Homo sapiens: one gene and its partners. The protein of the gene in region 3 purifies or fractionates together with the protein of the main gene of each other region. This does not show direct contact. Each region holds a gene or a part of one and is shown on either strand. Other genes may lie near its edges.

What was found.
Region 1: the proteins of MYPOP (region 3) and TBC1D23 purify together in Homo sapiens (affinity purification with mass spectrometry; one large-scale study listed by BioGRID and IntAct). This does not show direct contact.
Region 2: the proteins of MYPOP (region 3) and BORCS5 purify together in Homo sapiens (affinity purification with mass spectrometry; one large-scale study listed by BioGRID and IntAct). This does not show direct contact.

The regions. Positions count from the first base shown.
Region 1 is NC_000003.12:100,319,992-100,322,864, reverse strand, and holds part of TBC1D23 (TBC1 domain family member 23), read right to left. Parts: intron 2,089-2,873; coding exon 1,894-2,088; intron 1-1,893. UniProt on the Homo sapiens protein: Putative Rab GTPase-activating protein which plays a role in vesicular trafficking. Involved in endosome-to-Golgi trafficking.
Region 2 is NC_000012.12:12,363,578-12,367,077, forward strand, and holds part of BORCS5 (BLOC-1-related complex subunit 5), read left to right. Parts: intron 1-3,500.
Region 3 is NC_000019.10:45,889,523-45,892,613, forward strand, and holds the end of MYPOP (myb-related transcription factor, partner of profilin), read right to left. Parts: intron 2,758-3,091; coding exon of another isoform or gene 2,648-2,757; intron 1,802-2,647; coding exon 1,101-1,801; 3' UTR 501-1,100; downstream 1-500. UniProt on the Homo sapiens protein: Transcriptional repressor; DNA-binding protein that specifically recognizes the core sequence 5'-YAAC[GT]G-3'. Dimerization with PFN1 reduces its DNA-binding capacity.

The DNA of each region.
Region 1 (2,873 bases), on a different chromosome or scaffold from region 3:
CATAAATATCAATGAAGAAAGGGAGAGAGAGAATCTAGTTACTTTATCTTCCACTATTAAGACTATCTTCCAAAACTCTGAATTAAAAAAAAAAAGATGTTGATCCATATATAATAAACTTCAATTTATTTAGCAAAATTTGTGGGAAAGCCTTTAAAACACAATTCCCAACTTTTACTATACATGAGAGAGTCATAATTCAAATCTCCTTTGGTTAGGATTAATTTATAAGTAGATATTAAAATGTGTATACCTCTCACCCATTGAATCTACTTGCAGGAATTTATCCTGAGAAGACTAATTGGACAACTATGTAAACATACATGTTTTTAAAGGCCCACTAGAAGATTAATAGTGAAACACATGAAAACAATGTAAATGCCAATCAACATGAGGCTTGTTAAATCAATCTCCTGAGAAATCCTTATAACAGAATATCTACCATTAAAAAGCTAAGAATTTATATTTATTGGGCCGGGCACGGTGGCTCACTCCTGTAATCTCAGCACTTTGGGAGGCCAAGGTGGGTGGATCACGAGGTCAGGAGATGGAGACCATCCTGGCTAACACGGTGAAACCCCATCTCTACTAAAAATAAAAAAATTAGCTGGGCATGGTGGCGGGCGCCTCTAGTCCCAGCTACTCGGTAGGCTGAGGCAGGGAGAATGGTGTGAACCTGGGAGGCGGAGCTTACAGTGAGCCGTGATTGCAACACTGCACTCTAGCCTGAGTGACAGAGACTCCGTCTCAAAAAAATTAATTAATTAATTTTAAAAAATTTATATTTATTAAAATGTAAGTATATTCACACTATACTATTTTCTTAAAAAATCAGAACACAAAAACAAGCCTATATCACATTTATCTAGTTTTTAGTAGAGAAATAACATATGCATTAAAAAAAATCTGAGAAGATACACATCAATGTGTTAACAGAGAATTAGAATGACATATTCTTTATATTATTAATTGAAAATATCACTATGTAAATATTTATTCTTACATAAAGCAATGAAGTGATTTTTTTTTTTTTTACAAATCAGGTATTATTTTCTTTTAACAAATTACATAAAACAGTATAGATTCATGATGTTTGCTACCTAATTGTCAGTACAAGATGAAAGAAGCTGAATAATTTCCTCTTCCAACTGAAGTTGATTATTTAAAAGTGCTGCGATATAACCTTAAGCTTACTATTTATCCAAGCACTCCTGTAAATAATAAGTGTAATCCTAAATCCCAGTGGGGGAACAACTTGAACTGATGCAAGGTATAATAAACCACAAATCAGGAGTCAGGAAGGCTATATTTGGTTCTGTCACAAACTAAGTGTTAGGATCTGGGAAGTCATTCCACCCCTCTGGGCTTCATATTTTTATCTATAATTAAAAAATGGTTTAGTATCAATATCAGTGTGGTCCACAGCTCTTGGGCCAGTCTGTGAACTGTTAGTGACCCACAATGAGACAAAGGGGGGCTTGTACCAGGCTGTAAATTACCTATATCACCCAGCACACTGCTTAGTTCACTGACAGTTTGTCAAAACAAGAATTTTTCGATGAAGGAAAATAAAAATATCAACATATTCTAAAACAAGTTTCTTATTTCTCTGCAAGCCAGCAATTAGTGCAGCACTGGTACAGATTAACAATAAGGATCCTTGGGTCAGAAACTTTATGAAATTAGCTATGGCACTTACTCAAATCATGTGCTAATGGCTAAACCACACATGACTAAGGACTCCGGAGAAAGAGATAAGAAACACTAAAAGTGGTTCAGCTATCCTATTCCACCATCCATTCCCCAAAATAAAGAAACAAACTCTTTATAGTGAACTACAGTAATTCAGATAATATCTGAATTCAGATAATATTATCTTAAGGAAAATCTTACCTTTCGATTGCCAAGATTTCTATTCCTGAAGCACTGCTATTTCCATACTTGAAGGTAATGAGTTCAGGATGTTTTTTTTTGGATGTAATTTTAACTACAGAATTCAGCGCTTGTCGAGACTGTATATAAGCCAATCCTTTCCGTGAAACAATCTCCCTTAAACAGTACATATGTGTTGCAGTAACCAACAGATGACTTGAGACAAAAAAAGCATTAAAAGAAAAAGAATTTTTAAGTAAATTTAATTCAAAACAGGTGTTGTTTCAACCATCTCAATTATTAGAAATGTTCAACTCTAAATAAAATTGAGTTAAAAGATATAAACAGAGGTTAATCTATAAACAAGTAAGCTACACATTAACACCTTTTAATTGTATGCAAAATTAATATTTTATTAACAGATAATCCTGCAATGATTGAAAATATAATAAATATAATAAAAAGTTCCATACAACATAGAAATCACTACAATAATATATTTTTTATTGAAATGGAGTATATTACGTTTCAGATTTTTTAACGCTATTACCTATATTCATAAACTATTCTCATTCAATGCACCATATCCTATATCTAATATCCAAGATCACTAGGCAATTGTTGGGTTTCCCTACATATTTTGTAAACATTCTGTAACTGGATCCTGAAGGCAAAATGAGCATAGTATTATTAACACTCACCCAACCCCTGTATCTCAGCTTCTTTTTAATATAATACTCTCACATTTTTTATGTACAGTAATACAATACGACAGTTATCAGACAAGTGCAGAATGTGGAACATTCTGTAGGATGATTGACCTGGACTCAAAGGATTCATTCATCATGAAGAGAAAAGGGAAGCGAGGGGGTGGGGGGATGAGTTCTGCTGTACACAGGGTGAGACTAAAGACACATAACAGACAATGCAATGTGTAAACCATGAACTGGATCATGGATCACCAAAGAAAAAACACACTACAAAAGATACTTTGGGGACAC
Region 2 (3,500 bases), on a different chromosome or scaffold from region 3:
ACAAAAAAAATTAGCCGGGTGTGGTGGCGGGTGCCTGTAGTCCCAGCTACTTGGGAGGGTGAGGTAGGAGAATGGCATGAACCTGGGAGGCAGAGCTTGCATTGAGCCAAGATTGTGCCACTGCACTCCAGCCTGGGTGACAGAGCAAGACTCCATCTCAAAAAAAAAAAATTAGCTGGGTGTGGTGGTGTGCACCTGTAAACCCAGCTACTCAGGAGGCTGAGGCAGGAGAATTGCTAGAACCAGGAGATGGAGGTTGCAGTGAGCTGAGACTACCACTTCATTCCAGCTTGGGCAACAACAGTGAAACTCCATCTCAGAAAAAAAAAAAATATCTGCATATAACTTTCAACTTAGCCAAAACTTAACTACTAATAGCCTTCTGTTTACTAGAGGCCTTACTGATAGCATAAACAGTTGATTAACACATCTTTTGTGTTATATGTTATTATATACTATATTATTACAATAAAGTAAACTAGAGAAAAGAAAATGTATTAAGAAAATTATAAGGAAGGCCAGGCACAGTGGCTCATGCCTGTAATCCTAGTACTTTGGGAGGCCGAGGAGGATGGATCACTTCAGGTCAGGAATTCGAGATCAGCCTGGCCACCATGGTGACACCCCATCTCTACTAAAAATACAAAAATTAGTTGGGTGTGGTGGCGTGCAGCTGTAGTCCCAGCTACTTGGGAGGCTGAGGCACAAGAATCGCTTGAACCCGGGAGGCAGAGGTTGCAGTGAGCCAAGATCATGCCACTGCACTCCAGCCTGGGTGACAGAGTGAGACTTGGTCTCAAAGAAAAATATAAGGAAGAGAAAGTATATTAACTATTCATTAAGTGGAAGTAGATCATCAGAAAGATCTTCATCATTGTCTTCACGTTGAGTAGGCCGAGAAGGAGGAAAAGGAGGGGTTAGTTTTGCTGTCTTAGGGGTGGCAGAGGCAGAAGAAAATCTACGTATAAGTGGACCCACGTGGTTCAGACCCATGTTGTTGTTCAAGGGTCAGCTGTAATTCGTTTTATGATTAATCACTAGTAGGGGAAATATCTAGAAGACTTGGTGTTAAGGGAAGCTAACCTCAGATTTGAAGTCATCACTGAGGGCTGGCCATGGTGGCTCACGCCTGTAATCCTAGCACTTTGGAAGGCCAAGGCGGTTGGATCACCTGAGCACAGGAGTTTGAGACTAGCCTGGCCAACATGGCAAAACCCTGTCTCTACAAAAGATACAAAACTTAGCCGGGCATGGTGGTGGGCACCTGTAGTTCCAGCTACTCAGGAGGCTGAGGTGGGAGTATCACTTGAGCCCTAGAGGTGGAGGTTGCAGTGAGCCAAGATTGCATCACTGCACTCCAATCTGGGCAACAGAGCAAGACTCTGTCTCAAAATAAATAAATCATCACTGAGTGCCCTGAAAGTGAATAATTAATGTGATGCAGTTAATGCAATGCAACTGGACCTGGTTGCATTGATAAATGAGTTTTAACTGGGACTTTGCCACCAACTATTATGTTGTCTGGCTTTGTTTTTCCACCTTTTTGAGCCTTGGTTATTAAGAACATTGAGAATAGGTGAGGAAGGAGGAAGGCTAGTAAGGAGCAGATTATAGGAAGAGGTTATCGGGGATTTGGTTAAGGAAGGTAGAGATGAGATCATGGCTCACTCCAGCCTCCACCTCCTGGGCTCAAGCGATCCACCCATCTCAGCTTCCAGAGTAGCTGGGACTACAGTGTGCACCACCACACCCGGCTAATTAAAATACATTTTTTTTTTTTTTTGTAGAGACAGGGTTTCACTATGTTGCCCATGTTGGTCTTGAGCTCCTGGACTCCAGTGCTCCTCCCACCTTAGCCTCCCAAAGTGCTGAGACTACAGGCATGAGCCACCATGCCCGGCCCGAGTTTCAAAAAATACTATAGAAAATAGTTTGTATAATTCATCCCCCCCACCCCAACCCCCACTTGATGAGAGTGGCGTGAATCTAGAAATGACAACATGTGGCTGTGGCCAGACTATAGCAAACAAAAAGCCAGTGAGCATTGAAGGTGATGCTCATGTTTCACTTGTGAAGACGAAACATCTTGGGCCGTGATTAGGAAAGATAGGCAAAGGGGGTGGAAATGATAAGTTTAATTATGATAATAGTATCTTATCCCCCATGCTTCTACATAATAGCTATTGTTCTTTCTGTTTTTATAGATTAAAATATTGAGGCCTAGAGAGCTTAAATTAATTGCCTAAAGTCACATGGCTGTAAGTGATAGCACATTTTAAGATTGCATCAGGACATAGAATAAGACTTAGTTTCCAATTCTAGCAAAGCCCATTATAGAAATCACTAGGATATACAGGAACTAGCGTGGTGGGTATGAGGTTGTTTGGGTTTTGAGGTGCAGCATTTGTTGCAGAGCCTCCTGCTTTGACGTTGTTCTGCCTGATAATTAAAAGCCCTACCCTCTGCCTGCTGGGCTGCTGCAGGGGCCAGGCATCACTGTCGCCTTTATACTCTGACTCTTTTTTCCCCCTTTCCTGCTTTCAGGATGAGGCCATTCCTCAAAATAGTAAAAAGGCCACACAGTGAAGCCTGTACCCCCCAGGTTTGATTTCAGAAAGCTTTTATTCAACTTAATGACAGTTTATTCTTTCAAAACAATATATTGAAGTATTACACAGAGTTCACTATTGTTTCATAATGTCATATGATGTAATGCTAATGCTGGTGGGTGATCTGCAGAGGCAGTGGCTGGGCGAGTTTGGGGCTATTTGTATGACTGAGGTAATGTTTGCATTTTTAATAAGCAAGCAGATTCTTTCTTTGGCCTTAACCCTTTTGCATAAATATACCAGAGTATAATTTATGCTCCATAATCCAAATATCTGTTCCTTTTTTTATCAAAGGGATTTCTGTTTTTCATAGCAATGTCTGAATTAGTAATTTATTTTGACATGTAAAGCATTTTATAGGAAATGAAAGATTAGAAAATTAGAAAGTAGCTACAAATGGCTGTGACAGAACACAAAGGCAAAATAGTAGATTTGATGTAAGTTAGCAAGATTCCAAGAAGTTAACAAACCCTGTATAGATTTCTTACTTGAAATTCAACCACTCATATTTTTTAATGAATCCCACTCTATTGTATGTCATTCTAAAGAAATGAAATATTTGCAAGAGAAAAGTAATATGGTTGGTGTTTTATATATAAAGTTACAAAAATAATTATTCACTCTTAGTAGATGAATATGTGCATATTTACACACATGCATGCATGTGACATTCTTTCCAACCGATCTGTCATTTTTGTTACTGACCTTGGATACAACGTAAGAGATTGTATTGCTGCCTATGGAAGGGGCTGTTTTTGTTAATAACAAGGATGATCAAACATATACAGTGTAGATACTGAAGTGATACTAAGCAGCTTTGTTGGGAGTTTGGTGTTTGGTTGTTAAGAACATGATGCATGTGAAGTAGATTTTGATAATTAAAAGGAGCCT
Region 3 (3,091 bases):
TAGAAAACCCCATCTCTAGAAAAATAAAACAATTAGCTGAGCATGGTGGCACATGCCTGTGGTCCCAGCTACTTGGGAGGCTGAGGCAGAAGGATTGCTTCAGCCTGGGAGATCGAGGCTACAGTGAGTTGTGATCATGCCACTGCACTCCAGCTGGGGCAACAGAACGAGATCCTATCTCAAAAAAACGGAAAGAAAAGAAAAGAAAGGAAAAGAAAAAGAAAAAGAACCACAGGACACTGAAAGAGACTCTAAGAGGCAAACCCACGTTAGCCTTGGGGAAGGAATCTAGGACTTTCTCCTGGAGTTGACATTTAGACTGGTATCTAAAGGAAGAGTAGGAATAAGATTTCATGTAAACACAAGACTTGATGGCTTTAAGAATTAAAAAAAAAAAAAAGCTGGAAAACCACCAGCCTCCCAATTGCCTGCCTGTGGAGGGGGCGGGGCAGGTGTAGGTGCTGGTCCCCCAGGCCTGTCTCAGACAGAGCCTCAAGTAATTGTATTAAAAATAAGTTTATTGATATCTTGTCACCACTGGGAGAAAGGAGGGGGTTGAGCTCTGGAAGTCAGAGACAGCAATGGTAGGCAGAGAACCCAACCTGTACCTCTCCCATCAGAACTCGGCGCCTCCTCTCCCTGGGGTATACACGGCTATATCCTCTTTGTCATCCGTATTTTGATTTGTCTTACAACTCCCACCCGCTCCAAAGTCTGGGTTGGGGAGGTGGGGAGTCCCCCACGGGTCAATTCTCTTCAAGTCAAGAACAGGAACTGTTAGGGAAGGGGAGATGTGCAGACCCGAGAGGTTCCCTCCCCACCCCACATAGGGCAATAATAAATAACATGAAATTGATGGCTTAGAAGTCAGGGTTAAGGGAGGCAGCCAGGCAGACAGCACTGTACCAGAGAAAGGGGTTGGGGGGGCCCATTACTGAGGCCCCCCCCAGAGAATCAGGCACTAACTAGCACAGGGAGTGGGTGCTCACATCCCTGGAGCAGGGAGCTAGGGTGCAGCTGGGATGGGCAGAGAGCATCGCCCCCCTCGACTGCGCCAAGCTGGGGAGAGGGGTTGCAGGCAGGATCATAGATAGTAGATTTCACGGAGATTTCCATCGGCCGCGCCTTTTCCGTGTAGGGAAACCTTTTCTCCGCTTGTGTGGGGGGGAGTCGTGCGGAGGGAGCGGGGCTGGGGGGGGCCGGGGTGCCCCCTCCTCGCTCCTTGGGGCAATGATCACTCCCCTGGCTGCCACCACTGCCCCGTCCACCACAGCAGCCACCACGGACACGGGCTCTGGGGTGATCTCCACCTTGGGGGCCGGTGGGGGCAGGACAGGCCTGGGAGGTGGCGGTGGGGGTGGGGGTGGGGGCAGAGGTGGAGGCAGGGAGTCAACTGGGGTTCCTGGCAGAAGGGGCAGCAGAGCGCTGAGGGCCTCGCTCAGTTTGGCCAGTCCCTGTCGAAGGGTGCCGGCCAGCTCCCGGATGGCGTTGGCAGTCTCCTGCTGGGCCCGCAGGAAGTCCAGGGAGGGGTCTGAGGCCGAGAGCGTGGGTGGAGGCCGAGGAGGGGGTGGGGGGCTAGGGGGTGAGGGTGCCACTTGGGCCAGTGGCGGTGGGGGTGGCAGTGGAGGGGCTGGGGGTGGTGGAGACAAGGCCAGGCGAGGCAGCTGGACCGGCTGCAGGGCCGAAGGGGGTGGTGACTCACGCTCCTTGGGCCGTGGGCAGCCCCCTTCCTGGGGAGTGCAGGAGGGCCGGGCCCATGGCTCCGGGCTGCTGGAGCCCGCCTTGCTGTGGGCTGATGTATCTGTAGAGAGAGAAATACAGGTAAGGGGTGAGCGACCCTCGATGCTGCCTTGATTTCCCCTTTCCCACTCCTTCCCTCACCTCCCCCCTACCCGAACCCAGAACTATCCTTCTCACCCCCGCCCCCCAGCCCCAAGACAGTCTTGGTCTGTCACCCAGGCTGTAGTGCAGTGGTGCAATCTTGGCTCACTGCACCTTCCACCTCCTGGGTTCAAGCGATTATCCTGCCTCAGCCTCCCGAGTAGCTGGGATTTCAGGTGACCGCCACCACACCCGGCTACTTTTTCTATTTTTAATAAGAGACAGGGTTTCACCATGTTGGCCAGGCTGGTCTCGGACTCCTGACCTCAGGCGATCCGCCCGCCTTGGCCTCCCAAAGTGCTGGGATTCCAGGTGTGAGCCACCGCGCCTGGCCCCAGAATGATCCTTTTAAAACCTAAGTCAGATCATGCCTTGGAAGAGAAGCTCCATGGCAGGCCAGTCTTTGTACCCGGAGGAGAAAAAGTCCTGCCAGCTTTAGTGGAAACAGGTCCTGGAAGTCCCTTGCTAGGCCAGGCAGCTCCCATCTCACTCACAGTAAGAGCCAACAGTTTTTTTATTTTTTTAATTTTTTTTGAGACAAAGTCTCACTTTGTAGCCTAGGCTGGAGTGCAGTGGCGTGATCTCGGCTCACTGCAACCTCTGTCTTCCGGCTTCAAACGATTATCCTGCCTCAGCCTCCTAAGTAGCTGGGATTACAGGCAGGCGCCACCCCGCCTGGCTAAATTTTTGTATTTTTAGTAGAGATGGGGTTTTGCCATGTTGGCCAGGTTGGTCTCAAACTCCTGACCTCAAGCAATCCACCCACCTCGGCCTCCCAAAGTTCTGGGATTACAGGTGTGAGCCACTGCGCTCGGACAAGGGCCAACATTTGACGAGGTTCTGAACTATATGGATACTGCACCACACTGCTGGATCCTGAGGAAGTGAGAGAGAGGTCTGGGAGAGAGCTGGGGTGTCTGGGCACTGGTGGACACTTCCCTGAGACTCTCTCCAACCAGGACAGCAGGATTTTCCAGTTCAGCCCCCAGCCTGGTAGGTTTCCTCAGTCTGTACTCACCTGGGGTCTCATTCATGCTCATGGGCTTGAACAGTTTGCATACAGGGGCTCCCAGCTTCCTGGGCTCAGCCTGAACCTCTCGCCTGGGCTCCAGACTCCTGTCTCCAGCTGTGTACTCTCAATTGTCGAAAAACGCCCCAAACTCACTTGCTCGGAGCTGGGCTTCTGATCCTCCCCCACCCTGCTCCTTCC